Regions from separate parts of the Homo sapiens genome. Here all the other regions are linked to region 2. The links come from fine-mapping of genetic effects on gene expression. A gene starts in region 2. Each other region holds a variant in brackets. All regions are shown on one strand. Distances are between the middles of the regions. Region 1 overlaps MIR4435-2HG (MIR4435-2 host gene). Region 2 holds the start of BCL2L11 (BCL2 like 11). Region 3 overlaps BCL2L11 (BCL2 like 11). Region 4 overlaps BCL2L11 (BCL2 like 11). Region 5 has its middle 55 kb from the start of BCL2L11. Region 6 overlaps MIR4435-2HG (MIR4435-2 host gene).

Evidence for each region. PIP is the estimated chance that this variant, and not a neighbour inherited with it, causes the effect. A credible set is the group of variants that fine-mapping cannot tell apart.
Region 1: its variant is the best candidate, but not a certain one, in a credible set for the expression of BCL2L11 in whole blood (TOPMed, PIP 0.76).
Region 3: its variant is the best candidate, but not a certain one, in a credible set for the expression of BCL2L11 in whole blood (TOPMed, PIP 0.50).
Region 4: its variant is the best candidate, but not a certain one, in a credible set for the expression of BCL2L11 in whole blood (INTERVAL, PIP 0.51).
Region 5: its variant is the best candidate, but not a certain one, in a credible set for the expression of BCL2L11 in pancreas (GTEx, PIP 0.64).
Region 6: its variant is the best candidate, but not a certain one, in a credible set for the expression of BCL2L11 in whole blood (TOPMed, PIP 0.81).

The regions. Positions count from the first base shown.
Region 1 is chr2:111,377,938-111,383,023 of GRCh38, reverse strand. The region is part of intron 1 of MIR4435-2HG (MIR4435-2 host gene); the gene reads left to right. Among named protein-coding and RNA genes, the nearest start is that of MIR4435-2, 59 kb to the right of the region's middle. The variant TG/G (reference allele first, on the strand shown) is at 2,447.
Region 2 is chr2:111,118,271-111,123,344 of GRCh38, reverse strand. It overlaps BCL2L11 (BCL2 like 11), which reads right to left and starts at 2,431. Exons shown (of 4, transcript NM_138621.5): 1 at 2,157-2,431. ACOXL (acyl-CoA oxidase like) reads right to left here. Exons shown (of 18, transcript NM_001142807.4): 18 at 4,797-5,074. RefSeq lists silencers at 347-906, 1,699-1,993, 2,327-2,866 and enhancers at 1,877-1,996, 3,147-3,226.
Region 3 is chr2:111,140,389-111,145,388 of GRCh38, reverse strand. All of the region lies in intron 2 of BCL2L11 (BCL2 like 11), which reads right to left. Among named protein-coding and RNA genes, the nearest start is that of BCL2L11, 22 kb to the right of the region's middle. The variant A/G (reference allele first, on the strand shown) is at 2,406.
Region 4 is chr2:111,163,159-111,168,235 of GRCh38, reverse strand. BCL2L11 (BCL2 like 11) reads right to left here. Exons shown (of 4, transcript NM_138621.5): 4 at 1-4,103. The coding sequence ends at 4,005. Among named protein-coding and RNA genes, the nearest start is that of BCL2L11, 45 kb to the right of the region's middle. RefSeq lists enhancers at 565-624, 1,939-2,439. The variant C/AC (reference allele first, on the strand shown) is at 2,727.
Region 5 is chr2:111,173,761-111,178,846 of GRCh38, reverse strand. No RefSeq gene overlaps it. Among named protein-coding and RNA genes, the nearest start is that of BCL2L11, 55 kb to the right of the region's middle. The variant A/C (reference allele first, on the strand shown) is at 2,317.
Region 6 is chr2:111,406,749-111,411,834 of GRCh38, reverse strand. The region is part of intron 1 of MIR4435-2HG (MIR4435-2 host gene); the gene reads left to right. Among named protein-coding and RNA genes, the nearest start is that of SOCAR, 82 kb to the left of the region's middle. The variant C/T (reference allele first, on the strand shown) is at 3,025.

The DNA.
Region 1 (5,086 bases), 260 kb before region 2:
CTTAAATATGGGCTGCACACAGTGACTTCCTTTCAAAGTGTACAGTGTGGAAAGGGGGCAGGGGAGAAACTTCACAGTGGAGACGTACAACAAACACTGCCTCAGCCAGATGATCATGGTCAACATCACGAGTGACGTCATGTTGATAGGATGTGCTCCTGATAGAATGTGATGAAAGTAGCACTTTACTTCTGTGGTCTTCTCCCAATAATCATAGGAGAAAACACCAGGCAAATCCCAATGTTGGGACATTCTACGAAATACCTGACTAGTGTTCCTCAAAACTGTCAAGGTCATCAAAAACAAGGAAAGTCTAAGAAATTGTCACAGCCAAGAGAAGCCTAAGGAGATGGGACAACTCAGTGTAACATGATGTTCTATGGTGGAAGAAGGACAGCTGGGTCAACTAAGGATATCTGAATGAAGGGTGACTTTAGTTAATATGCATCAACATTGGCCATTAATTGTGACAAAGGTACCTCATTAATGTAAGATAGTAACAATGAGAGAAACTGGGTGTGATATCTAGGGAAACTCTCTGGACTATTCTCAACTTTTCTGGAAATTTAAAACTATTCTAAAATAAAAAGTTTATTTTTTTAAAAAGGAAGGCAATCCCCTTTCTCCTCCCTCTTTCTCCTTTCCCTCTCTTTCCTCATTTCTCCCTTTTCCTTCCTCCTCTTCCTCCTGCCCCCTCCTCTTTTCCTTTAACAATAACAATAATGTGTAGTCCATTCTCACACTGTGATAAAGAACTACCTGCAACTGGGTAATTTATGAAGGAAAGAGGTTTAATTGACTTGCAGTTCCACAGGCTTTACAGGATGCATGGCTGGGAGGTCTCAGGAAACTTGCAATCATGGCGGAAGACGAAGGGGAAGCTAACACATCTTCACGCCGGAGAGAGAGAGAGATAAGGGGGAAGTGCTACACACTTTCAAACAGCCAGATCTCGTGAACTCTATCAAGAGCACAGCAAGGCGGAAGTCCACACCCGTGATTCACTTACCTCCCACTAGGCCCCTCCTCCAACACTGGGAATTGTAATTCAACATGAGATTTGAGGGGGGACACAGAGCCAAACCACATCAAATGGCATCACACATGTGACCAGTACGTTGTCGTTTCCAGCTCTCTTCCCTTGCATTATTCTGCAGGAGCCCTTGCCACAGTGCAGTGCTGGATGTGGTATTCTTGAATTCACAGTTGGGCCAGGGAGGTGAAATGACCCACCTAGGAGGTAGCAGAGGTGCTAGCAGCACTCCCAAGACTCATAGTGAATTCTCCTGGGCCTGTCCGTCACCCTGTTATGCCACTTTTCAGTTTCCCTCTGATCACAAATGACTCAGCACACAGTGTAAGTGCTACAATTTTACTCCAGAATTTGACTTGTATTGTCCTACAGACTGCAGGTACCCTCTTGTTGCTCCTTTCCCTTGAAAAAAAATACATCATCTCAAAAGAACGCAACCAGGAGCTGGCAATGGCACTGGAATCCCTTCCTGGTCACAGAATTGATGCTCATCTGCCCTGTGCACAGCACTTTTACAAGAAATCTTATTTGGTCAACCCCCCAAATATCACAGAAGGACATTATTATTATCTCCAGTCTGCAGTTGAGAATGCTGAGGCTAGAGAGTGGTTACCACTAAAAGCAAACCTTTTCTCTCTTTCCCATTGCCTATCCACCCTGACTCTGGGCTCTGACCCATACCCACCTGCTCAAGGTCCCAGGTAGGAGTTGCCCATTCCTTTAAGTATGAGTTCATTCATACACATCACCATGTGAGGCTTGATGTGACCTCACTAACAAGCAGGTCTCATCTGCCCTGTGCATGTGAATGTGCCTTAGGAAGCTTATCAAATCCCAAAGGAGAAATTACATCCTCTAGGAAAAGTACAGTGAGGTGACTGTCCCGTTTCCTTTACTGGCTCTGGACCACAGCTGAGTTCCCACGCACGCACTGTGGCACACGAGAGTGTGGGCAGAGGCACTTCTGCTGAGTGGGATGAAACATCTTAAGTGCTCTGAGGGTTGAAACTTTGAAGAGGTTGAGATCTGTGAGAGCTGAAGAACCTTTGAATCTCCCTTCAGCTCTCCCTACCCCAACCACAGCCCTTCTCTTGATGTAAAACATGTGTTCAGATAGAAAACAAATGAGGCTTACTTCTATGCCAGTAGGACTGTTTGGCTTTAAGCTTCCCCAGTGGTTGAAAACAGCAATCTCCGAGATTTGCCCAAAACTTTAAATGGAAGTCACTCCCATGGGTCACATCCATGGATTTGTGAGATAGGGCAGGAGGCTGTGTCTCTGCTACCCAGCGGTGGGAGCAGGAGTCTGTGCAGCCTGGTTGTATTGGGGATGGGCCCCTCGTCCAGTTGCCTATGAGGATAACCTGCGGAGAAGATCTGATGGAGATACCTGGACTTATGCAGAGGCGTGTT[TG/G]GGTTAAATAGAAATGCCCAGGGTCCAATAGAGGGAACCTTCCAACAAGTGTATGAGTTGGCCTCTCACCCAACGCTGGCCACCCAGATGACAGCTTCTTGGACATGATGAATGGCCTCACTTCCACCAGAACATCTTCCTGCCAGGCCCTGCTGCTGCTTCCCCAGCTGTGTGGCCTTGGATGAGTAACATGGCCTCTTATTAAAGAAATGGATGAAATACTTTCTAAAGAATCTTCCAACTCTGAAGATCTGTGACATCTTGTCACTGAATTAATAGGAAATCAGCTCCTTATAGATTTGGTCTATGTTAGGAGACAACCTCTGTTGATGGGCTGACCGAATGTCTGAAGTGGGAAGGATTTGGGGACCAAAACAGGTAACAAGAGTAGACGAACACAAGAAATTCAGGTTGAATTAACCTTCAACAGATATTTATTGAGTAACTTCTACATGTAAGTCACCAAAATCTGGGAAGGGGAAATGGATAAAAGTACGATTCTCTCTCTGGAAAGCCTATAGTCTAATTAATTGATGTATTAAGTAATGCTGGGTGGAGGAACAATAACCCAGGACTTGTATAAACAATAGGAAACTCTGGGGGAAGAGCAAGGCTAGAAGAGACATTATCTGGGAGGCAATTCTAGAGCAGGTAGATTTCAGGAACAGGACAATCAAAGAAAAGGAGAGTGGCATTCACACATCAAGTCTAATAATATGGCCTTATTTTATGGTCCACCTGAGTACTGCAGAATTTAGCCCTAGGTACTACCAGGTCCAAAGCTGCTTCTTTAAGCTACACTTTAAGCTCCTGTCACTAGAAGGGGCTGTCAGAGTGCCAGGGATTTTGGTAGGTTCCGTGCAGACTTCCCTAGTCCTAGAGGACGTTGGAGTCACTGGGGTGTGAGGACATTGGAGAGACAGGAATAGAGTTCCACGCTGCGATGAGGAGATGGAGCCTGATGCAAAGCCACAGGGAGGCTGGCGTTGTTGGGGTGGGAGGAATTCCCACCCAGTGGGAGAGTTTTACATTGAGGACTACATACCTGGTCAGGGTATAAGGCAAAGTGGGCTCCCACTCCTGACATGTTCCTCTTTACCGATGTTCCTTGTGAGCTTATTCCCCACCTAGGACAGCTAACACTTTAAGCTCTTGACTGTCATTTATACTTTATTCATGTGAATGAGTTTTTAGTTTTCTCTTGAAAGCAAGTTGGGATACTAGGAAAGTTGACAAGAGTTTGAGTTTCTATGTTGGTTGGGAAAGAGTGATGTCTCCACATGTAATTTGTAGAGGGTCCCATCAGTTTCCAAAAGAGGAAGTGGGTGTTTGTCTTGCTTTTGAGACATTTTGGGAGACTTAGACACAATATAATTTCTATTGAGAACAAAGTAGGGTTAGGATTTGGAGAAGGAAGACAGATATTTCCTTCTCTCTGCTAAAGAGATGGTCTGGAGTAGAAAACTTGTGGACTGTGTTTACAATTGTGGAGTACTACTCTTGGTAAAAACAATAAAGCAGAATCGATGTCTGTAGAACAGAGCTGGAAGGGGCCTCATGGTTGGTTTTCAAGGTAAACTAACCACAGACATCAGTTTTCCACTCCTCAGCCTTTTTAGCATCTGGGTTCATCTTCCAGGAAGGCCATAACAAAGCTCCACAATCTGAGGATCTTAACAACTGAAATTGATTGCCTGGAAGTTCTGGAGGATGAAAGTTCAAGGTCAGCTTGGGCAGCGTAGGTTTCTTCCGGGTGCCATGAGGGAGAATCATTCGTGCTTCTGGTGTTTGCTGGCAGCCGCTGGTGTTCCTTGGCTGGCAGAAGCACCACCCCAACCTGTCTCTGCATCTTCACAGGGCATTCTCCCTGTCTGTGTGTGTGTCTGAATTTCCCCCTTTTATAAGGACACCAGTCATGTTGGATTAGGGGCCCACCCTACTCTAGTATAATCTCATCTTAACTAATTATACCGGCAATGGTACTAGTTCCAGATAAGGTCACATCCTGAGGAACTGAAGGTTCAGACTTAAACACATGAATGTGGGGGAGGAGACGCAACTCAGCCCATAACCACATTCTTTCTACACAGGGAGTTCAAGTTAGAGAGCCCATCAAATCATGCAGGGAAAGGAGATGAAATCCTCTGGGTCCGTCACTGTTTGAGGCAGCCCTAGACACATGCTGAGCTATTGTCCCCACTTTGCCAATGCAGACTAAGCTTGTGTCCATGGAAAAGCCCAGTGTGAACTAAGATCACTGGATGCCCACCTTGGTGCTGGGGGCCGGGGCCCACACAGAAGTCCCAGGCCCAACCTGAGGGGAGCAGGCTATACCAGGCCGAGGATGGCCCCCTTGATTTGGGTGCACACTCAAATGTACAAACTACTGCCTGCACCACAGAGACTGGCCCGGAGGTGTTATCTTCCCAGAGGGCTGGGCAAAGGGCTATCTTTGAACCAGCTGTTCCCACTCAGGCAAGAGTGGCTTTGCTGGGCCTCCACTTCCTCCACAGTAAAACGAGGGTGATGCTCTGCCCTGCCCGACCCATCTAGGGTCAGGTGAAGATCAAATGGGATAATAAGATAGAATGTCTTTTGAAAGACCCACACACGAAGGTGGCATGAGGGATTGTCTTTAT
Region 2 (5,074 bases):
GCGGGCGCAGATGCAGCGATTGCAGGCGGCTGGCCGCGTTCCCTGCTCCGGCCCCATTGTTTGCCGAAAATGCTGAGGGCAGCAAGTCTGGGGAAGGTCTGGCAGCGGCCGTCAGTCGTAGTAAGTGCGTCACAATAGAGTTTGTAACTCCAGCGCGGCTCGGCCCGGCTCTGGCGCTCTCTCCGCCCGTGCTCCCTCCCTCCCGCTCCCGTACCGCACGCCGCACCGAATCAGACAGAACTTCTCTGAGGTGCACACCGTGAGGTGCACATCTCTAAATGGGGAGGGGGCGGCGGAGGGCGACGAAGCGAACGCCTGCAAGGTCTACAACTAGGTCCGCAGGCTAGGCGACACCGGTGCGCGCCGCGCCGCCTTCATCCCACAGACCCTCCCCTCAGAAGGCAATCACACCGAAACTCACGTCCGCGCCTTCCCTTCAGAGCGCAGCGTCCGGGCCAGGGACCAAGCCCCGCGGCGTCCGGCCCGCGCCCTTCGCCGACCGGGCGCCCCCTGACCGTCACCACGAAAGCAGCGCAGGAGACAAAGCCCGGGACTCGGGTTCAGAGTCCCCGGCGCAGCGCAAAGCCCGCGCCTTCCCGCCAGCCCGCCGCCGCGCTCCGCCGGGCAGCCGAGGGCTCCGCACGCCGCGCCTCTGGCCCGCGCTGCCCCGGCCGCAGCCGCCGGGAACATCCTCCGCCTCCTCCCGCTCCTCCCCTCGCGCTCTGCGCCCGCCGCCGCCGGCACCGCCGACCTCCCCGCGCCGCTGGCGCCGGGTGCCCGCGTTCCCAATTGGTCCGCGCGCGGTCGCTCCGCGCCGCAGCCAATCGGCAGCCGCGGTGGGGGCGGCGCCTACGGGTCAGGCCGCCAAAGGCGAGGCGATTGTTGACAAACTCGCCTCCGAGCGCTGCTCTGGCCGTGGTCGTGGCGGCTGCCGCTTCGTCGGAGGATTTGAGGGCCGGCTGGCCCGGCCACCCTGCCCATCCCTGTGCTCCTTCCGGACACAAGCCTTAGCAGCTCCCGCCGTCCTGGACAGCCAGTCACCTGGAGACAAAGCAGGACTTGCGCCGCGCCCGGACCCGCAGGGCCATCCCCAGGCCCAGTCCTCGCCACTTGTCCTTGTTTTGGCCCGTCGGGGGCAGACCCTAACGGCCGTCACCGCCCTGGCTGTGGCAACTATTCTCCTCCAACAACTTCCTCTCTCTCCTGGTGCGCCGCAGACACGAGTCAAAGCCGAAGAGCCACCCCTGGCCGCGGACGCGCACGTCCGCGACCATCGAGTAAATTCACACCCTCCGCCCTGGCGTCCGTCGGGCCCTCCACCAGCAGCGCCAACCCTGGGGCAACAGGTCCCAGAGGGCACGGCGCCGCCAGCCTGCACCGCGAACCGGGTCGGGTGTGCTCGGGCATGCGTGAGCCGCTAAGATAGCCCGGCCCAGGGACCGAGCAGGTTCTGCCGGCCGCGACTAGTCCCCTGCGCGGTCCAGGTGGTCAGGGGAGGACCTAGATTTCTCGCTGCCAGGGAATCGTGCGGATGGCACAGGCCGCAGGACTCCTGCAGAGCAAGCAGGGGCCCCAGGTACGCTTGAGAAAGCGAACGCAGCAGTGGCCCCGAAACCTTGGCCTGAATGAGTAAAAGGAAAAGCCGTGTCTCGTCAGTTAAATCACCACCGCAGTTCCGCAAATCCTCCGCAACAGGCCCACGCGCCCCAAAAAACCAAGACACGAAACACCCTCACACTGCGCGGCCGCTACTCTGAGGGCGCCGGAGCCGGCGGCGAGACTTTCCAGCTGGGCGCACAGCCCGATACTACGAGCAGGTCCTCAGCTCCCGGGCCGGCGCCGAAAGGCACGCGCTGCCTCTCCTCCTGCCCGGACCTACGACCCTTCACCAGGCCCGCGCGCAGCATCCCGTCCCAAGCCGCACTTCGGCCAAGAGCCTGCAGGTTCCGCGTGAACGACTTTTCTTTAAAGAGAACCTGCCCGAGAGGGAACCCGATCCACACGGATCCCCACCTCCCGCCGGCGACAAGCGGCGCCGATGCAAGCGTCTCCGCTCGCACGTGCACGGGAAGCGGGCAGTAGGTGGTGCCGTTCGGGCTCCAGCGCTAGTCTTCCTTCGGTGCCAGGCCCGCGCCCCGGGATTTGGAGGTATTTACCTTGCGTTTCTCAGTCCGAGAGTCAGAGTCAGACATTTGGGGGAACAAGGGCCAAGAAAGGGCGCCGAGGCGGTGGCGGCGGGAACGCAGCGAACCGAATACCGCGATGATGCGATCGCAGTGTGGCAGGGTTCGCAGGGTGGCTGCAAGAATCAAGTGGTGGTAGTGGCGGCGGCGGCGGCGGCGGCGGCGGCGGCGGCGGCGGCGGCAGCGGCAGCGGCGCTGGACGCAGAGCTCCAACAAACTGCAGACCAGGCGGCTGCGCGGAGCGAAGTGAAACCTGCGCGGCCCTGCAGCCCAGCTCTGGCTGGCGGCCCCGCTCCTACGCCCAATCACTGCGGACCCCGCCCCCGCTAGGTCCCGCCCCGGCGCGCGGGCTGGCAAGCTCCGCCCCCCTCGGCGCCGCGGCCGCCGGCGCGTGCAGGCTCGGACAGGTAAAGGCGGGGGTTGCCCCGCTGGGTTGCCTCCCGCGCGCGCCGCCGTCCCTGGCGTGTTTACCGGAGTAACTCTGCCTGCTGGCGGCCATGTGCGCGCCCATCCCCCACCCCGAAGTGTACCCTAGCCTCCCGCTCACCTACCCCAACCCGGCGGCGGCCGCGGCGTGCGCGGCACAGAGGGGGCGCTCCGGTCACAGCCTCCGCTGGCCCGGCCGGCGGTGTGAAGCCTCGGGAGGCGCCCTGCGCTCTCACTGTGCCCTGAGTTTCTAAGCCGCTCTGGGGCAGGCGCGGGGACTGGGTTGGTCCTCGCGAAGGCGCGGGGCGAGGTCTTTGAGCTCTCCTCCCTCTGAGGGTCCCTGGCGCCGGGCGGGACGCGGATCAGCAGGCTGCGCATCTTCCTCGCCCGGGCCTCTCGCGGGACTCAGGCACCCTCCTCCTGCCACCCCGCAGGGGCTCTCCAGCTTTTCTTCCGCGCCCAGTCGCCCTAAGAGACAGAGGCCGTGGGGGCAGGACGCGCCCAGAAAACGGCCAGGCGCGGTCCCAGTGGGCGTCTTCGCCGCCTCCCGGGTGAGGGCGGGAGGCATGTGCAAAGCAGGTAAAATAGGGAAATGAAAAAAGCACTCAGAAAAAAAAATCCTTTTAGGAAAAAAAAAAACGAGGTGAATGGCGGCCTCCAAGTGAGAGAGAACGTTGCGCACTGCATTTGGCTAGGACCCCCAAGATTTGCTGGGCTCGCAGATAACCTCGTAGGAGCTCCCTCGACTGGCTGAGGCCAGTGAAGGCAGAACAGCTGAGTTCGGGCCGCGGTGCGGGAGCGCAAAATACCCCGTCCCTCCTCCCCTCCCGCCTCCCCACCCATCCCTTTCCTCCCTGGAGTCCGCAGCACCTCACTCTACCTCCCAGGAGACCAAACTCCATGCCGCCTCTCCAGTCCTCTGAGTCTGCACCCGGGTCTGCTCTCCCAACGCGTGGCTGGCGCCCCAACCCCGGCCCTCCTGTCTGCTCCTCCCGCGCCTCAGTTCCCCAGCCCCAGCTTCTAGACAACTGCAGCGGGGGTGTGGGAGGTGGATCGGGAAATGGAACATCCCGCAGGTGAGGTCAGGCTAGATGGATTAAGGAAACTCTGTAAAGGGACCACCCTACACACCACCGCAGCCGGCAGGGAGAAGGAAGGGGCCTTGCCGTAGAGGAGCAAGTGAGGAGGCGTTGTCCCGCCGTCCGGCCGCCTGGAGCAGTTTTTAAATTCATAAGCGCTTCTGTAACGTCAGTGGGACACAGCGCAGCCCCATGCCAAAGTCTCAGCGCATTTTCGGGTGAATTTTGAGCGAGGTGAAGGAGGCCTTGGGTTCCCGGAGTCGCTGGAGGACGCGCGTCGGGCCCCGCCCAGTTATTTCGCTGCAAGAGGGAAAAGGCACGAGCGTGGACACGGCTAAGTAGACTCGGAGGCCGGAGATCGGTCCTAACCGGGCCTCGAAGTTCCTACCGCGGACGAACTTTGCTCTTCGCGGCCGTCCCGCGTCGCACCCGGGGAAAAGCAACACAACTTGCTGCGCGGGCTGAGAGCCCGAAGCCCGCCGCACGCCGCAATGCTCCGCGCTCCCCGCGGGGTCGGGCGACTCAGACAGGGACCGGAAAAGAACCACGCAGAAGAAAGCCCTATTTCTTGTCGTCTGTTCCTGTGCAGCCTTGCAGCCTCGCCGCCCCCGCGTCGCTCGCTCTCGCGACCCTGTGAACACTTTGAAAAACAAGAGTCGGGGGAAGCAACGGGCTAAGCGCTGCTATTTGGGGCACTAAAAGGAAGCCGGCCAGAGGTGGCGGGTTCATGCGTCCCCCGAGACCCAGGCCGCGTCGGGGGCCAAGAGCCCTTACAGCCTTCTCCCGCGCCGTCGGGAGGTCCTCCCGGAACTGGGCCGGAGCGCAGAGAACGCAGTGTGAGAAGGGCCCATGGGTTTTAGGTCACCTCCTTCGCGCTGGACGCGGGCAGAGCGGTGTCCCTTTCTGTCTCTGCCAAGAGACGTGGAGGGAGGGAGAAGGGAGGATGGCTTGTGCTGAAAGAAACAAGAATGAAGTCGGGCAGCCGGGATCTGAGAAATGGGAAATCCATGGCCCTTGTTCGGGACCACAGGCTTTGCCGACGTGGTCTCTCCTAGTTCCGAAATTGCCCAGGCCCGCCTCCCCACCCTCTGCAAGCAGCGGGAACGACTTCCACATCGCTTAATTTCTTTATTAAACTTTTCACCTATTCTCTTCTAAAGGACAGACTACAGCGTCAGATGGTAAAAATGTTTTCCGCGCCTTGTCTTGCCGTACGGAAACCGCCGGCCTGGGAGGACAAGCCGAGTTCTTGTTTTGCCGAGAGCAAAACTCTAGGCTCCCACTTCCTTCTCCCAGTCCGTGCGTTTCCTTGCAGAGCCCCAGAGCGTCTGATTCACTGAAATAGCATCACTTGCTGAACCAAACCTTTTTTCCCGCTCGCGGAAA
Region 3 (5,000 bases), 22 kb before region 2:
AAGGAAATGAAGTCACATCATGACATTCTCTCTCCAAAACCCAGTTGTTCTCTGTGACGATGCCATAAAGTGACATCTAATGACTCAGGTGTGTGTACTGGGTGGCAGGGGCATGTCACACACAAGCATTCTCAACTGCAGCCTCAGTCTGGGAACGAGGTGGTGCGACCCTCATTTCCGAGGGGCAGCTGCTGTTTTAGTTCCCATCTTATCATTACTGGAATTTCAAGTGTAGTACCAGAAACCAAATTAAAATTCACAGGAACGCTGCACTCTGTACTGTTTTCAGATGTTCAGATATCTACAAACACTCGAGTAGAATCAAGATTAGATTTTCAAGTCATCAGCGTGAATTAAGCTTTGAATCGATATTCAACTCAGAACTGAGAGAGGATTTTACACACATAATAGAACATACTTAGCCAAAAAGTGCACATTCTGTCTGGCACTTGCGGGAAACAGCCAGGCACAGCCAGGGACTGCAGGGGTGTGAGGAGAAAGAAGGCCTGTCCTTCAGACATTGCAGGGCTGTCTACCTTTACTCTCCAGAGAGATTCTGCTTTAACCACCAAAAGCAATAAAGGATCCTGTAAAGGGCCATTTCTTTGTGGACTCTGAAACCAGCTTTAAACCAATTCCAAGAGATACTCCGAAAATGTTTAGGGGAGTCACTGCCTCTGTCTGCAGGTGGGCTCTCTGAAGCTGACATTCATTTAGAGAAAGAAAAATTCCAGGATGTTTATTCAACTCTGTAAGTCTCCTTCTTTAAATATCTTCAGAAATATCTTTCTAAATTCAGAGTTATCCAAAGCTTACAAGAGGAGGGAAGCAACAGACCAGCCCCCTTATGTTTCCTTATAAAACTCACCTGGGTGATGGAGCTGTTTCTAGTCCCAGTTAGCTATAAGGCAAAGGAGAGCAACTGCCATCAGCGTTTGCGGTAAATGCTATCAGAATCATGTTTGAAATCCTCAACTCTGACGGTTCTCAGAAATAAAATAAGCAAGTAACCAACAACACACACACACACCTCCCTCCAGGTCTATTTCTCACTTGTATCATTTTATTTTTTGGCAATCCCAATCAATTCCGCTGAGCCACTGGATGAAAACAAAAGCTATGAGAAATACGATGACAGCATTAGTACTCAAAGATTCCTCAATCTGTCTCCCTGGAACACATTTGTGTCAAAAGCCTGGGCAGTCACATGAATTCAAGACAGTGCTTCAAAAACAGCTGCTAGGATAAAATACTATCAATAATAAAGTTTATGAGATGAGGCCAGTGTTTTCATACTTACTCTTTCAACGTGCACTGCCCATTGCCTTTATGGAGCCATGGTCAAAAGAAACAGCTTTCATCAATTTCCAGCCTGACCATTTGGAAACTGCCAGTAAACCAAGGCTGTGAAGTTGGACAGAAGTCTGGAAACTAGTGTTCATGAGATTTTTTCCCTCATTCACTATTATCTGTCCCTTATAATAAAAATACAAGTCTAAAGACATTAAGATTAATGTGTTATGCCTTTTTACTCATTTCTCATTCAACATCAGAAAAACTAATTATCCATGTCACCAGAGCTGTCCCCGACACACATATTAACATATTTACTAGCAGCTGGGGACAAGCCAGGAGCAAACCCAGACTGAGCTGTGATCCCTATACTCAAGGACATCCCCAGCTGAGTCACGACAGAAGCCCAGCATCTTGCACCATGTGGGAGACCTGAGCAGGAGCCCTCTAAGACTCCCAGCCTGTGTGCCCGCTTCCTGGGACAGATGCACATTTCCTAAGGCACTGCTGTCCTCGCTGAAGAACACTGAGTGCTACGATGCTATTCCTCGTAGGGAATTGAAATGTTCCCTTCTAAGCCCCACTTCAATCTTGATTCTGCCCCTGGGACTATAAAGGAAATCTATGATCCCTCTCAATCATCACCCCACTTTTTGTCAGTGAACCTGTGCCAAACCTGGTCCTAAACCAGTTCTTTCCATGTGCCTTGTATGACATCCCCTGGGAAGCCCCTTGACCACCTGGCCCGCCTTGGTGTGCTCCTGAAATCGCTGCTCTGAATAGTGTGTGACAGTGTTCTGCCCCTGGTGTTCTGCCAGTGTTCTTCTGGGGAAAGACACGGGACACTGAATACTGCTACTACTCCTTAGTTTTTCTACACCAACCTTCATCCTAGTAAGTCTCTGCGACAGCCACAGCTCCATTTCTATAGCTTTAGATTACTTTCAGGGGATTAAAAGTATCTGACCTGTGCCATTTTATTCTGAAAAACAAAAATAATCCCAAAACTAAGGACAGCTAAAAGAAGACCAACCCTGAAATTACTTTAGTGCAAAGACACAAATCCCTATATTTTTTCTACTGACGAGGTAAACTACCCAATTTATTTCCCC[A/G]TAAGAAGAAAAATGCTTTAGAGACCTTTTAAAAGTAAAGATAAAACTCTATATACATTGGTTCACTTAAGACCATTCCTTAGAATTAAAATGCTTAATTTGAAGTTACTGTAAGTTGTTTCTAGCCAAAAAACCAGATCTGGGCAAGAGGGGAGGGAGATGAGAATTTAAACAAAAAATATAAGAATTTCTGATGACAAAATAAGTGTGGCTTCCTCTATGAAATTTAAAACCAGTAGCAGGAAACTGGTGATTAACATCTTTTCTCCTAAACTCACATTAAGGTCTTCAGTATTACTGTTTTCACCTCCATGATAAGAAAGACCAAGACACAGGTAAAAAATAAGAGCAAAAACAGAATCCTTAAAAAGCTACACCTTAAACAGTTTTTAAAATAAAAATGGAAAAAGCCTATAATGTATACGGTTAAAACTTACAATGGTGATATACAAAGTGAAGTACAATTTAACACAGATATGATTATTGATAACACACTGTAGGGCTAAGACATAATGAAAGCTTCTCACTTAAAAGTCACAAAAGGCAGCTGCTTCTTTTTATCCCATTTTGAATAAAAAGAAAAACTTTTCACCTTGATTTTGCTAACCACTTGAGTGGCCACTGAACTTCCCTATGAAGGGCAATTCTGAGGGAGGATCCAGCGGAGTCATCTGCAAGCCATAAAAATGTTGTATAAATAAATTGTGCCATGTCTTCCCAGACAGATAACTTGTTTTGTCACAGAAGGAAAAGAACAGGAGGTAGAGTCTTCATTAGCACAAGTGCAAGTTAAGGATGTAAAGAATTCTGTGCTGAAAGACTGTGTTCTGGTGCTTTTGAAGGTCTTCCATGTGTTTAGGTTCACACATTCCTCCTCCTCCCTGATGCCCCCACTTTCCAGGGCAGACACGGCTGCTGCCCAGTGAGTCTGTATCCTAGATGAGAAACACACTGTGTGATACAGATAGAATTGGGATTGTTCTGGTCGGGTGCAGTGGCTCACGCCTGTAATCCTAGCACTTTGGGAGGCTGAGGTGGGCACATCACTTGAGGTCAGGAGTTCAAGACCAGCCTGGCCAACATGGTGAAAACCTGTCTCTACTAAAAAAATACAAAAATTCACCAGGCATGGTGGCACCTGCTTGTAATCCCAGCTACTCAGGAGGCTGAGGCAGGAGAATCGCGTGAACCTGGGAGGCGGAGATTGCAGTGAGCTCAGATGGCACCATTGCACTCCAGCCTGGGTGACAAGAGCGAAACTCCGTCTCAAAAAAAAAAAAAAACTCACAAGAATTGGGATTATTATTATTATTATTTTTTATATACTTTAAGTTTTAGGGTACATGTGCACAATGTGCAGGTTAGTTACATAGGTATACATGTGCCATGCTGGTGTGCTGCACCCACTAACTCGTCATCTAGCATTAGGTATATCTCCCAATGCTCTCCCTCCCCCCTCCCCCCACCCCACAACAGTCCCCAGAGTGTGATATTCCCCTTCCTGTGTCCATGTGATCTCATTGTTCAATTCCCACCTATGAGTGAGAATATGCAGTGTTTGGTTTTTTGTTCTTGCAATAGTTTACTGAGAATGATGATTTCCAATTTCATCCATGTCCCTACAAAGGACATGAACTCATCATTTTTTATGGCTGCATAGTATTCCATGGTGTATATGTGCCACATTTTCTTAATCCAGTCTATCATTGTTGGACATTTGGGTTGGTTCCAAGTCTTTGCTATTGTGAATAATGCCGCAATAAACATACGTGTGGATTGTTCTAACTCAATGTAGGCCAGTTCCCCATAGGCACCAACTCCCTACACTGCTATGACCACTGCGGAAGGGCCATGGCCCTAACACTGAGATTTCCAGGCAGGCTAAGGCATTTGCCCCAGGGTTGTTAATAGGCCTATGGGAGGACCAAGGCTGGGCTGGGTCACCTGCTGGAACCTCCTACTCCACACCTCACACTAGAGGAGCAGAGGAACACAAAGATGAGTCAACACCTTGTACAGTGTATGCCAGGCTTTCTTTGCCGAGGACAGAGTTCTAAGCTTCAAATGAGCACCCTGGTGAAATCCAAGTGAAAAGAGAAGGAACTGGTGGCACTCGTATATTGCATTAAACGCTAATGAGAGTCTCTTTAAATCAACAAATATTGCACTCCTGCTATGTATCAAACTTTTTCTTAAGTTGTTGTTTTGACTAATTTAGTAGAATTTATGATCAAGTATCAGCAAAAATGAGGTGTAAACTCACATATATACTAACATTGTATCTATTCAGAATTCACTATAGACTACTTCAGGTTAATGCCTTTCTCAAGGGACCAAATAACAGACAAATCAACAAGAAAATACACTTCTAGTCTTTTCTCCACCACACATCCCACAGAAAAGTAACTCACTCAACAAATCAGGTTATCGAGCTTGGCTCACCTCAGACACCTTCGCAGATGCACGTGCCTAAGAGAAAATCAGATTCCATCCACTTAAGCTGCCTTCTTTGAAAAAAGTATCAAACCACTCCGTAAGTCTTCTATAAACTGCTAATAGTAAAATGTTTTAGGAACTGGAATGGGAAGCATGTTA
Region 4 (5,077 bases), 45 kb before region 2:
GATCAGTGCTATTTATAAGTGGGTACCTGATGAGTTCTGATACAGTAACTAGTGGTCACAGAATCTGGACATAAAACATAAGAGAGCTTCTATAGTCTGAAATTCCCAAATAAAAGTAGTCAAGTTACTTAACTGGGAGCTTGAGGATGCTTCTTACACACAATGCTGTTTAGAGTAGACCCCAACTGATTTAGCGTCATCTGTAGACACGTTTCCCCCACCCCACGTGTACGTGAGTGGACACACACAGGCACCAGGCTAAATCAGCAGGGATGGCAGAACCACCTGCATGGAACCACCATGAAGTCTCCTTAAAGCTCCCATAAGCTTTCACATCTTGACACCCAGTCCAGTGGGGCCCCAACCTCCCCTGAAGGAGATGGAGTATCAGAAGGAGGGCATCGACCTGAAGAAGCAGGCTGACCAAATGCAGTGACCGTATGGGTGGGGCGTGGGGAGGGCTGTACAGTTAATTAGCTCCTGAAGACAAGTTAGTCCAACCTCAAAGCACAGGAAGTTGCACAGCAGGTGGGGGAAAACCCAGCTACTCACAGTTGTCCACAAGGGGTTAGTGGCCTGAGGTGGTCCTTAGGCAGGAGCCACCTGTCCCACCCATTCACTTGTCCTGCCTGGCCCTAGCCCTGAACAACTGCAATGCAGCACCTCTGGAAGTGGCACATTTTATTTCTTTTCTAAACGCTGAGTTGTCAGGGATAAATTTTCAATAGAAAAATCTTTCCCACCTGCTGATAATACTTTGGTTTTTTTGTTTTCCTAAAGATAAAGCCTGGAGTCAGCAAAATTTGCTTGCATGATAAGCTAGTTGCTTTGGAACAAACAGAAGGTTGCTGGGTATTTCTTGGAGTAGAATTTTGTAGCCTGCCAGACTGAGTTTCTCACTGGCATCAAACACACACTTCATCATAAGGGCGGCAAAGCCCAAGAATTGAAACCCACTTGACTGGAAATACCAGGACCCGAAGGTGGAGAGCCACCCTGGAGGACCACGTGGTCTGCAATGAGCTCTCCAGTCACCCCCGACAACTCTCAGGAGTTAACTTCATGGGACGGCAGGGGAGTGGGAGACAGGGATGTTAATACTTTTCAGAAATTAAGACATTAAATAAGCAGAAAATAAATATACAATATTTCTACAAGTTACAGCATTATGAAACAGTAGGACACATCACACAGAAAAAGAATCTACAATATTTACAATCCTTGATTTTGAAAAAGTTGAGAAAAACAGTGATTTTTTTACTTATTTATGCTGTACAAAATTTTACAAGGTAAAGGAAACACAATTGCACACAGACATTTGGCTCAGTTGATAAGTAATATGACCTACGAATCTAATAAATACTCACAATATATACATTAAGAAGGGGAAACGGCAGACAATTGTATTCCACTATATTTTTTTAATCAGAAGGAATTTTAAACTTGATTTCTCCGCAACCCCCACCCCCAAAATTCTTGATCAACTAACCAGTTGGGAAGGGCATCTGAAGAATCACTCATGAAACTATTTTGTGTGTGTTTATTGCGTTTCTGTGTTAAGTCACAGGACACTTTTTACAAACCTCACATAGGGAGAGGTTGTCAAGGCACAAAACCTGCAGTAAGTTTCCAAAAAGGGGATTTAATTATTTTTTCTACAAAAATGTTTTTTAAAAAAGGTAAAAACGTATACCCACGGGAGGCATACTTTCTGCACAGAGGCATCTTGATAACCAGATACATACAGTACAGAGACATCCAGTCATCGCTTTAAGTTCTGGTGCCAACAGCCTGGTCTTTAATACTCCTACAATTCATAGAATCTCTAATTTCCTCAGGAACTGTTTCCACAGCCAGCCTGGAGGCCGCCAGGCCAGAGGGAAATGTGCTCATGTGGTGCACACAGCCCCTGGGCAGCACAGGGCAGGGCCTCCCGTGCCTGGCCCAGGGCTGCACCCAGTGTGTGCTCCCAGGGGCTGCAGGGCTGAGGAAACAGAGTAAAGTGCTCTAGTCAGGAGACTGGCACGTGAGTACAGGGATCCTGGGAGGGGGTGCCCAGATCCAAATACATCTTTGGTGTATGTGTGTGTCCAGCAGGCCCACGGCTGCAATCCTACCACTGCTTGTAACCGTGGGCTTTGTATGACCCTACCAATGGGCTCGAGACACATCAGGGAACAAGATGAGCTCCAACACAGCTTTAAAAATAAGTCAAAGTCCCAAGGAGATTCTTGGGGAAAGGAAATTTTTTAAAGTAAGAGTATTTGGATTGAAATCATCTCTACCTAAAGGAAAAAGTGAATATGCAATATATACATATATATTTTTTAAATTATGAAGATAAAAATGTTTAGATTTTTCCACCTAATTTAAATAACGTGAACATGCTGGCTCTTCTATCGGGCAAAACACTAGTTGGTGGCACTGCTTACTCATTTGAAAATTTAGTTATTTCTTTTAAAAGTTGTTTAACGATGGAGTTTTCAAAAATTTTAAGAGTTACAGAGTTCACAGAATTGTCTTCCCTCCTCACTTTCACTGCTCCCTAACCTGACTCTTTCTTGGGTCTCCCTGGGCATCTGCTGCCTCTGAAATGACTGACCAGTGTGTGGCTTCCTTCCACTGCACTCATAAGGAGCAGGCACAGAGAAAGAGCACCCTCACTACATGGCTGGGGTCACAAGTGGCCTGACAATATCCAACTGTCCTGGAAAAATGAAAAAAAA[C/AC]AGACTTCTGCCCAGAATTATTCTTCTATGGTGCTGGTGGAAGTGGGATGAGGCCTGTTTCAAAGTGAATTTAAAGGAGTGAAGCTAGTGGACTGTGAGTTGGACTAAAATGCAGGAGGCCAAGCAAATGGCCATCAGAAGCCCTGCCCCAGGCCTGTGCCAATTCCCATGAGGGCGTGAGCTGGATGCTGCAGCTGGACTCTGCTGTAATGGACACGGTGGCCCTCTGGGACCTGATGCTGACAGTGCATCCTGTGACCATGGGAAAGCCTGCAACCAGAAAAGCCAGCAGCACAAAGGGGCGTAGCACTTAAGTCTGTTGTTATTACTGCTATTGCCTCTTCAGAATACTTCCCAATAACATGCTCGTCGAAATGGAATGAAAACCAACACCAAATGCTTCCCAGTTAATAACAGATCGCTCGAACTGTGCAAGATACAGGCAGATATTAACTCTTGTTCTGACTCAATTTCACTTTATCATGAAAATACACTGGACCAAATCTATGCATCTGAGTCCAGACTGGAGTTGCATCACAAAAAGTGATGAGGAAAGACGCAAAAATAGTCTGAAATTTTGCCACAGATGCAACTGAATTTATAAAGGTACGTAAATATTTACAAATGGGACTGGTATATCAATGCAGGCTGGCAACAGACCCTCTGCCCTTTTAATCAGTTCCATTTCAAAAGAACTCTTTTGGTATTAAAAATAATTTAAAAAGGTCAGAGAGGCAATAGTAGGGAAGGGAGGGAGTATATCACACGTCTCCCTGTTTAAAAATTCTGTAATCTCTAAAAATAAACTAAGGCAGCTTTTTAAGTTAGCTGGCTCAGTTTCCACTGCAGGGGTTACATAATCCTCTGAGAATAGGCCGTAGGTTCTTAAAATTTTAATACAAAAGTTATTCACAAATTGGTTAAAAAGTTTCCATTTCCTTTTTGAAAAACCTTATTGAAGGTGAGGGGGAAAACACACTGCATGTAAACACCATTCTTACACAAAATCCTGCTCCAAAAAACCATGGTTTGTATATTAAAAAGCAAAGAATGCTCCCTCCTTTACATTCACAACAAACTTCCATTAGAAATTCTGCTGTGTGGTGATGAACAGAAAGGTAGTCCCATCCAGCTCGGTGTCTTCTGAAACGTCACCTGCCCCCTCCACAAGAGAACCGCTGGCTGCATAATAATGGCACCAGGAGACCGCGGTGCTGGGTCTTGTTGGTTTGAACAAGCAAAATGTCTGCATGGTATCTCGGCTCCGCAAAGAACCTGTCAATGCATTCTCCACACCAGGCGGACAATGTAACGTAACAGTCGTAAGATAACCATTCGTGGGTGGTCTTCGGCTGCTTGGTAATTATTCAAAAATACCTGAAACAACAAAAGGAAAGCTTCTTAGTTTCTCCCTAATTTGGGGGTGGGGAGGGGTGGGAGCCCATATTTAAGTGAACAACCAATCCCATCTTAATCACCATGAAAGGCACCTCTTCAAGAGCACTGTGTCACAAAGCACGATGCCTCCCAGAGATTGTGAAGAAAACTTGTTTTCATTTCCCTGCAAAGGGGAAGACATCCCTACAAAAAGGGCAGGCATACCAATGATTTACTCCTTAAAATAGGAAAAAAAAAAAAAAAAAAAAAAGCACTCAAAAAAATGTTTGAAAAACTCAAAGAGGATGTAAAGCAACTATCTTACCACCCAAGTTAACTGACATTCAAATATGCTGCAGATTCCCCCAGGGGTGAATTTCTGGTAGCTGTAATTTATTTGAAAAACCAGTGATTTGGAGTAATCTGCCCTAAGAAGCTAAATAAAGTCTCGCAGTGATGCGCCATTGTGCCTCTGGCTGCTTGGCTATGATAAACACCGTGACCCAGAGGGGTGCCCATGGTCACAGACACAGGCAATGTCAACCCCCATCCTCCCACCTTCTCGGTATGGGAAGGAAAGAGCAATCCAGAACATAAAAAAGTCTCTGTGTCAGTGACCAGCATATGTTTGTTACAAACTGAGAAACTGTTCAAAAGGAAATCACCAGCTTATCCAATGCTTTCAGGGTCCTCAGGTCTTCCACAGCGCCCACTTTCAGGTTCTAATCCATTTTGTGAGTATGTGCAAGGTATAAATTCACAGTCACCAAAGGCAGCGGCAACACAACACCTCAACCTCGACGCCATGAGCTACAACCTGGTTCACTGTTCAAGTCTGAAATCTGCCCTGGACATTTCTTAATGACTAATCCACACGAGACCGGGCTACATGACTGTCTCTCCACAAACCCCCTTCTCATTGGGTGGGGGATACCTCCAACACACCGTCGCGGGAACCACCTGCCATGCATCAG
Region 5 (5,086 bases), 55 kb before region 2:
GGGAAGTTTTGAGCAGCCTCCATCTGGGTGCTGCCCATTGGTGTACTGTGAAAGGCCATATATGACGGGGTCCCACAGAGGGATGCTATCAGGGGTCTGGAGGGAGATGGGAAGCTTCTCTCATTCCCACCCAACTTAGTACTTCTTTACCTTGTCCAGGCTTGTAGGGTAGCCACATTCTTCCAGAAGCAAGAGCTACATCATCCCACAGACATTCCCTGAGCACCTACTATGTGTCAGTGCTAGGGATGCGAGGATGGCATTCACACAGCCCTTGTTCTCATGGAGCACATAGTCCAGGCCCCCAGAGATTAGGACCTGAGTCCTTCCCTATCATTCCACAGCCACTCCCAGGTCTAGTAATCCTAGGTTCTAGCACACATTAAAGCTGGCGCTCCCAGAGTGTTCGCAAAGCCTGCTGCCCAGATAGTAAGACTGAAGGTGGGAATGAGTGGGTGACCAGGGAAGGTGCCACTGGAAAGTAACATTCAAGCAGCCCTGACTGCTGAAGAGGCCAGCCCTGTAGCTATAGAGAGAAGAGCGATTTAGAAAAAGCGGGCAGCTGCAGCCTTAGGCGGGAGTGAGCTTGGGTTGTTCTAAGCAACGGCATAGGGCATACTCCATAAAAGAGCCCATAATATTGACATTTATTTCTCCAACGTGTCCTTTTTTTATGACTCATGAAGACTTCTGTTTTATACCAGCCACCAAGTTTAGAAGCAACTAAATTGTCCGAAATGCACATGCCACCCAGAGCAGCCAGTGACAGTGAGTTCATCAAGACATGATCAGTCATTTTCTTCAGGTGAACTTATTTATCAGAATCCTGGCAGCGCTATGGCCCTGGACAGCAGCTTTTAAAAAGGAGAGGAGAAATAGTGGCCCCAGGGCCCAAACAGGTGAGATGAGGAAGGAGGAGGGGGCTACCAGGAGGCAAAAAGGGGCGTCTAAAAGGGAGAGCCGTTTTGCCAAAGGGCTGGCTGGACCTGCTGTTTAAAAAAGTTCTGTCATTTGAATAGGCTCCATGTTCTCACTACTCTTTTGAAAGTGGCAAACAGGCCAGGCGCGGTGGTTCACATCTGTAATCCCAGCACTTTGGGAGGCCAAGGTGGGCAGATCATGAGGTCAGGAGTTCAAGCCTGACCAACATGATGAAACCCAGTCTCTACTAAAAATACAAAAATTAGTCAGGTGTGCTGGCGCACGCCTGTAATCCTAGCTACTCAGGAGGCTGAGGCAGGAGAATTGCTTGAACCTGAGAAGTGGAGATTGCAGTGAGCCGAGATCGCACCACTGCACTCCAGCCTGGGTGACAGAGCAAGACTCTGTCTCAAAAAAAAAAGAAAAAAGAAAAAAAAGAAAGTGCAAACAGTACATACATATGATGAAGGTCAAGAGGCCAAGAAAAGACTGGGCTTTCATAGAAGATGATTTACCTGAGTCCTCGTCAGACATTTAGTTGCCACACACCCATCCAACAACGGTGTGTTGAGTGCCTACTAGGTGCCAGGTACGGCGAGATCCCGCTGAGTCAGAGGCACACTGGCTAATGCTAGCAGCCCCACAGACAGAGAGACACAATTTAAAATGTTATTAGGATCTTCCAGCAGGGATGAGAGCATTTACCTATAAGCCATCAGAAGGCCATCCCCAGAGCTTGGTGACTGGACCCGGAATCAGGCTGGGAGTTACCTGGGAGCAGCCACTGTTCTGAGCCTTGCTGGCTGGGGCAGGGACAGAGAGTCTGGTCCTGGGAGGGACTTGGAGCGGGCAAGGGTGTGCCTGTGGAGGCTCCCACGGAGGCCATTTCTGCATAGTATTGAGCAATCAGAAGTAGAAGTTCCCCTGGAAGAGCTTGGTGTCTAACCGGGTGCAATGTGCATTGTGGTCTGTTCCCCAACACAAATCATCATTTTCCCTTCTAAGTGCTCACACCTGAATGTGCTCTCTCAGAGCCTGCCCCTGTGTGTCCTCCTGTCCTTGTTTTTCAGGGGACGATGATGACACTTTTCCCATGATTATGAGATTCCCCTCACACTCTACACTCTCCTGAGCTATGGAAGGCCAGGCTCAAGCACAGCATGATCCACCCACGTTCACTGCCTGTGCCACACACAGATTCGGTTCTACCTCTAGCCCTTCTGGGGTCCACACTATGGCTCCGCCTCCCGTCTCTGAGCTCGCTGAGTTCTTTGGGTTTGTCAGTTGAAGGCTCTGACTCACCTGATGATGACTGGGCTCTCCCCAGGCTCACAACCCGGGGCCACCTCACCTCCACCCTGCCGTGGCCTTGGCCTTGGCCTTGGGCCCTACAGC[A/C]CACTCTGTCCTCCACTCACCTTGAATTTGGCTGGAGGCATGGATGCCTGTGCCAGGGCAAACTGGCAAAGGGAAACAGAAAAGAGAATTGATCATTTTGCAACTACAACAGAAATTTAAACAGACAGAAAGCACCTTGCTGATTGCTGTCCTTCAGAGCATTGTCCCTGGGGAGCATTGCTGGACCCGATGCTGCTGTGGCTGCCCCACCACTGCTGGAGTCATCCCTGGCAGTTTTGAGCAAGCTGTCATTCAGCAGCTCCCAAGCCCAGCTGCACACTGGAGTCATTTAGGGACCCTTTAAAAATATGACACTGCACCCCCACCACAGACTCAGAGAGGTGGGCCTCTGGTATGGGTATTTTGTAAAAGCCCCTGGGGGAGTCTAACATCCTCTAGGCTTGAGGACCTCCCTCCTGTGCCCTGTCTGGCCTGTGTTCATAGATGCTCCATAGGCGCCACTGGGCCATCATCCACCTCTCATGAACAGATGCTCAAGGCCCTGTTTCCCCGGCTTATGAGAGTGCTTCATTAAAGCAAATGTCTAAATATTCATGCTCCAGGCTTTCTCTAAGCAGCCAGTGGGTACAGTCCACCTTCCTGGAGTTTCTTTCCAGAAACTCAACTTAAAAAAAAGCCCTTTAAAATGAATTGACAGCCCTTTGTTTCTAGATAACCCCTGAGTTGAGTTCGTGGTCCAGCAAAACAGAACTCTCCATTCACTCTTCCTCCACCCCAGCCCCTCCCCAACCGATCTCACTTCCCACTCCTGCTTCTATTCTCAGGAAGCGCCATCCCCGCTAATTGCTCTGACCCAAATCATCCTTTAGAATCCTTGATTCCTTCTGTTCCCTCACCTTCCACATCAGGAAGTCCTCCCTCCTCTTCCTCCAAAGCCTGTCTGCCCTCTGTCCACATCCCAGGTCTCCCGGGGTGGACTCCTGACTTCTACTCCTGACCAAAATCCAGGCACAGCCACAATCCAGGCACAGCCACAATCCAGGCACAGCTCTTAATTTTTTAACTTTTTATTTGAAATAATTTCAGACACACAAAAAGTTTGCAAAATAGTAGAGACACTTTTCTTATAGCCTTTACCCAGAGTACCCAGATGTTACCATTTTGCCACATTTTGCTTTATCCTTCTCCCTTCCAACTGCCACCATTCCATCCTGCCCCACATGCATGTAAGCACATCACATTTTTCTCCTGAACATTGAGAGTAAATTACCTGTTGCCCCTTGCCCCTAAATACTTCAGTGTGTATCTCCTAAAAATGAGGACATCCTCTTACCTAACCAGAGTTCAGCGATCAAAATCAGGAAATTAACATGGATGCAATATTAACATCTACATATTTTCTTCAGATTTGACCACCTGCCCCAATCATGTCTTTTATAGCAATGGAAAATTCCAGATAGTATATTGCATTCAGTCACCATGTCCCCTTGGTCTCCTGTAATCTGGAGTTTCTATCAGATTATGTTACTCCTGTGACAAGAGCCCTCCACTGTCCTGGGAATGTAGGGCCAGCCCTGTCTCGGGCATGCCCCCTCACCCTGCAGCCTGGCCTAATTCTCAAGCCCATCTCCCCCATCCATGGCTCCCTCCCTCGCATGTCCCCGATGCAGCCCCTTCCTCCCCATTTGCTGTGCTGGGCTTCACATCTCTAGTGGCTCTGTCTGGACCGCTCTTCTCTGGTTGCTCCTGATCACCCTGAGGTCTCAGAGGAGAGGCCTTCCTTTCTCTGGTCCCACCACCGCACCTGGTCCACTACACTCTGCCTTGTTTATTTCCTGCACCTTTCACTGTCTTGGTCACTGGTTCCCCTACGTGTTATCTTATGCCTCCCACCTCCACTGAACATCAGCTCCATGAGCGCAGGGGGTTGTCCTTGCTAATTCCCAAGCATGTAGAATGAATTGTGCCTGATACATAATAGAGGCTCAACGAACCTTTGCTGAGCGAGTAAATACATGAATGAATGCAAGTCTTTTAGACTATTTGGGTTAGAGACAATAGAATCCTTTCACCAACACTTAAATGAGAAAGAGATTCTATAGGCACTGATTGAAGACAAAATGCAATTTTTTTTCCCCTCAGAAAGCCTTTCAAAGTGTCATCCAATGCCTGAGGAAGCTTTGACTCACCACTTTCCCCTTTCAAGGGTCCAGAATTCAAAGTAATAGAATTGATTTACTTTTTAAGAAAATATACCAGATCTTCTACAGTCAAGGATTTTTGTAGCAGGCGTCTTGGCAGAAATAAGTGACACATATTGGCCTGAAGGTCATGGTCGAGTAACACTGGGAAGAGTTTCTGACTGAGTTAGAGACTCATCGGAACCTACTCCATGAGCGGAGATAGCCCCCTTTCCTGTTAGAAGGGCCTTGAGGGACCTCTGAGCACCCTTGGGGGACCTACCCAGGATGAGGTTAGAGGCCTGGATCCCCAGTCTGTCCCCGAAGGGGTTCCAGGCTCAGGCCCCCAGAGCAAGGGTGAGCCAGGAGGTCAGGGGCGAGCCTGGGCAGGCAGCACCGAGGTGCTCTCACTTAAAATTGGGAAGGTTCTGCATCTTCACTGGGGAGGCAAATCAATCCTTGGCTGTAGAAATGTGTAAAGTTGGCTGTGCAAGCTGTGTGCTTCCCTGTGTGTACTTGTACCTCAATACTTTTTTTATAAAGGAAAAAAGAAAATCGGAGGAGCTCCAGCTCTTCAAAAGCAAACAGCAGCTGCTGGGGATGATGGCCTGCCTGAGTCCCTGTGGAGT
Region 6 (5,086 bases), 290 kb before region 2:
CCTCCTAACTCATAGTATCTACAACCTGGATTGTAGACCTAGCTAGTAGGTCTTGGGGGTCCTTCCCTCCTAACCCCTGGTATCTAGAACCTGGATCGTAAACCTAGCTAGTAGGTCTTGGTGGTTCCTCACATGGATAGAAGAGATGCCAATTTCCATTAACCATGCACACTGCTGCTTGGTGGGCAGGTGAGGAAGTGGTCTGAGTGTGGAGGAAGCCCAGGACAGGACCCTCTTTGCCTCCCCGTGGGATGTCCTGGCTGCCCTGGGAGGATATGTGTGGTGTTCTCTACACCCACCTGAACCTCTAGCTCCCCAGAGCCTCTGACTGCATGTTCTGAGGGCAGTGGCATCGGGAACCCATGGGCGCAGTGTGCAGAGACTGGCCGAGGAGAGCTGTAGGGGTTACCTATTAAGGAGGCAGGTCCCAGCAGGTACTAGGGACTGAAGAGGGTGGAGGGAGACCCGAGGGGGGAAGAGGCTGCCCTCGTCATTAGCCCAGATCCATCCCACCCACTTCTTCCCATCTCCCTGTACTTGCCCCATAGGGATTCCCAAAGAGAGGGAAGTAGAGGGGGAGAGGAGTACATGGGCACAGGAGAGCGAGTGAGCACCCCACCCCACAACAGTGTCCTGAGGAAGGCCCCTCTTTTGTCTCCTGCTTCACAAGCCTTGGGAACGGGGAACTCTGCAGGCTGAGCGGCATCCCTGCTGGGAAATGAGGGCCTGTCTTAGTTCCTCATTTAAGGCACCCACCCTCATTCCCAAGGCAGTTAAAAGCCCCAAGTTGCCCAACTCGGTCAGAGGAAGCCTGTCCCATCAGTCTCACACACCCAGAACTTGATTCTCTGGCCTCCGAGACTGGGCAGGGACCAGCTCTGTGTCCCCGAGCCCACATGTAGAGGAGGGAGCCGCGAAGCTGATAGCCCAGGAACTTCTATTCCCCACTTGTCATTGTCAAACTCTGATGTCTTCTGGGACTAAATTTGAAGGACAGTTTTTACTGTTGTAACCAAAAAAGCAAAAGGAAGCAAACAATTAACAGGCCCCCTTCTTTTCGGGACTTTTTTCTTTGTCAGTAGAAAGCCATCTCAGTAAACAAGAGCTGTTACGAAATGTACCTCACCCCACACTATGCCTGTAAAGCATCTCCCTTCCCCCCGCTGCACAACCCATTGTACAAGAAATATTGTGATAGATACCTTTGGGTTGAGGCTGGAACAAAATGAGCCATCAGGAAGCATTCCATTTTCAGCTGGACTTGTTTCTGCATCTTTTGGAGGATTTCTGCAAACCCACAGCCCAGTATGGCATTTCCCATACTCTGTGATAAGAACCTCCAGGATAACGTTGGTGGCTCAGGGATCATCTGAGCCTTGAGCAGCTTCCATTCTGATCTGGATGTCTCTGATGTGTGCTTGTTCAAGCAATCGATGAGCCAGTCGTGGGCCCCAGACTCATGGGAACTGGGGGAGTGCCCAGGTCAACCCTGCTTGCTTTTACAGCTTTCCTATAAAAGCTTCTCCACTCTTTGCCTGGGCAAGCCCATGCCCAGATCTCCAGCACACACTCCAGCTGCCAGAGGGGGTGGGGGGGCTCCCTCCTGCGTCTGGAACCTATTCAGCCAGCCTGAGATTCAGAAGGGCCTACCTGCTGGAGCTGAGGGTGGGTGAACCCACCCACTTGGGGCTAGCGAAAGATTGCATCTTGTCCCAAGGCTCTGCTGGACCTTGGAGGATTCCCACCATTGTCTTTTTGGGATTTGAGGGAGGTGTTTCAGACTGGGAGACTGGGAGAATGTTTCCCAGCAAAAGGCAGAGGTTGGGGTTCCTGGGATGTGGCTCCCCACAGACCAGGAGGCTGACACAGTTCCTCTCTCTGTCTTCCTGCTTTTCTCATGCAAACAGCACCCCTTTCCCATGGCTGCTCTAACATCCTTGGTAGCTTAACACAAAACACAAATGTATTCTCTCACAGTTCCCAAAGGCCAGAAGCCTGAAATCTGTTTCAATGGGCTAAAGTCAAGGTTTCGGCAGGGCTTTGGGGAGATCAGCTTCCTTGTCTGTTCCGGCTTTTAGACATGGCCAACGTTCCTTGGCTTGTGGACCCTTCCTCCACTTAAAGTCCATCACTCCAGTGTCTGCCCCATCGTCACATGGCTATCCCTTCTTTAACCTTCTTGCCTCCTTCATATAAGGACCCCAGTGGTTACGTTAAGGGCCCACTCAGATAATCCAGGACTACCTCTCTATCTCAAGATCTTCAACTTAATCACATCTGCAAAGTCCCTTTTGCCGTGTAAGGTAACATTCTCAGGTTCCAGGGATTTGTGGATGTCTTTGGGAGCCATTATTCAGACTCAGATAGTTATAGTTAAGACCTATGAGACAGTCTTCTACATCCCTGAGTGATACTTGAAGCAGCCTAGCAACAAAAAAAGCCACAAAACTTTGTCAGGAGAGCTGTTTTTGGGGCCACCCCACATTGACCCTTACCTCTGCAGCCCCTGGTTTCCTCTGGCCCCTGCACTTGTGTGATACCTTGAGAAGGGGTGGATCCACATGCCAGCCTACGCAGGAGCAAGAGGACCAGTGCTTCTTCTCCTTTCTTGGTACATGCCAGCACGGTCTGTGGCTGGGATGCTGCTCTCTGAGACTTGGGAGCTTACTTGTTCACCTCAGCAATGAACTCTGACCACATTTTGCCATTCCTATTCTCAGGCCCCTAGCAATCTCATTCCCAAACTCGATGACCCAGTCTTTTGCATGGCTCAGAGAACTGCCAGAACTGTTAGCACCTAGGCCCTCTGCTGGAGTTCACAGATGCAAATTCTGTTGCTTGCACTCCAAATCTGTGATGCAGGATTGTCTGCTATGTGGAATTAATTCAGAACTTGAGGAATCCTTGTAGTGCCACCTTACAAATGGGTTGGTGCCTTGGAAACCCAGTCCTGGCATCAAGGCCTTGGCATCTGTCAAGCAGAAGTGTGCCTGGGGTGTATTGGGGGAGGGGCAGTGTTGGAGC[C/T]GATTTCACCGATTTCTGTTCCTGGCTCTCTATTGTGCAACAACAGGCTCTTCTATTCCTTAAGACGGCAGCATTATTGCCAGGTCCTTCTATTTGCTCATAAAACTCCCATTTACACAGCAGTTTGCAGGACACATCAAATACAAAAATGGATGTGAGGTTTAGTACAGGGAGACCACAGCCATAATGAATCCTGGCAGGGTTTTTATTTTGGTTGCATCTCAGAAGCACTTTGCCAAGCAATGTATATGTGTTGAATGAATGAATGAATAAATGAATGAATGAATGCCGGTGGACTGACATGGCCGTATAGAACTGTAGTCACCCTTCAGAGAGAAGCCTCTGCAATGCACCTGAAAAGCAATGACCATCTACATGTTCTTCCTTTTCTTGTTACTATGTTTTACCCCACCAGGATGCCCACTGACCAGAAACTAAACAAAAAAACTCATGTTCCTGAATTCATCTTTTACTTGAGGGTAAAAGCTTGGGGTAGTGAAGTGAATGTTGGTGCCATATCATGTTCAAGCATTTTGGAATTATATAGCTCTAATTTAGACAACAGCAACAACAAAGAAAAGAGACTCCATCATCAGAATTGATAGGTTAGTAAATTTACAGATCACTCAAAGATGTTAAAACAAAAAAACAAAAAACTTTCTAAACTCTCGGTGTTCTTGGGAAGTAGCCTGCTGTCGTTGGGCTAGAGATACCAAGAAGAGCCAAGGCAGCAGATTGTGGTTGAAATTTAACACGGTGTGGCGGTGGTAGGCTGGCGGCACAGGGGCTGCCGTCAGAGATAACACACAGCCCGGAGAACCAGGGTGTAGATCAGTGCATCAGAGCCCTTTCCAACGGTCAGGAGAGGAGGCAGCTGCCCTGGGGGCAGGGAGGACCTCTGACCCACAAGTCCTGACCTACTGGCAGGAGAACCATTCCTGGTTTGCTTGCTGGGTCTGAGACATTTCCGGAGATGTGGGACTTTCAGTGTTAACACCCAAATAGCCCTGGGGAAACTAGGATGGTTGCTCACCCAAGCTCCAACTTGTCTATAGAATTATCTGGCTTTGAAAGAATGTCACGTGCTTTTATCTTGAATCTAAGGTCACTGGCATGCCCCTCTCATCCACTGGTTATTCTTGATGGTAAGGGGGCGGGGTGGGTAGGGTGAGGGGAGGGTGAAGGGGAGGTTCCTCCTGCCATTCCTTCCTGGAGAAGAGACCAGGGCCTTTCCAGGATTTTGGACTCTGACATGGAAGGAAAACACTTAAAGACCTTCAGGATTTCGTGAGAATAACAAGATTTTATTTTAACCATAAATTGTAATATTTGAGAAAATGCAGACATATTGTTTCTCAGAGCCCATACTAAGTCAGTGTGGAAAACAGCCTTTCTCTGGAGGCAAAATTGCACTGATTAACTTGAATTACAAAGGGAGCATTGCTTACCTTAAGCTAAGACAGCTCAATGAGACCTGCTGTAGCATTTTTATTACATGTGCAATTGTGCACATGTACCCTAGAACTTAAAAGTATTATAATAATAATAATAGGAACCTGAAAATCTAGACGTGGAGTGCTTGCGGTCTCTGGACACTCAGGTCTCTCCTCTTACCTCCTTTCACCTCCTCTCAGAGCCCATCGCTGACATTTAGATCCTCTAGAAACACAAGCGTAGCTCAGCTGCATGTCAGAAGTGCAAAAATATTTAACTTTAATTTTTTTATGTATATGTCTAAACTTGTCTTACACTTAAGGTCCCTGTATTAGTCTGTTTTCACACTGCTAATAAAGACATACCTGAGAATGGGTAATTTATAAAGGATAGGGGTTTATTGGACTCACAGTTCCACATGGCTGGGGAGGCCTCACAATCATGGCAGAAGACGAAGGAAGAGCAAAGGGACTTCTTACATGGCAGCAGGCAAGAGGCATGTACAGGGGAACTCCCCTTCATAAAACCATCAGATCTCATGAGACTTATTCACTACTACAAGAATGCCATGGTGAAAACCTGCCCCCAAGATTCAGTTACCTCCCACTGGGTCCCTCCTATGACACAT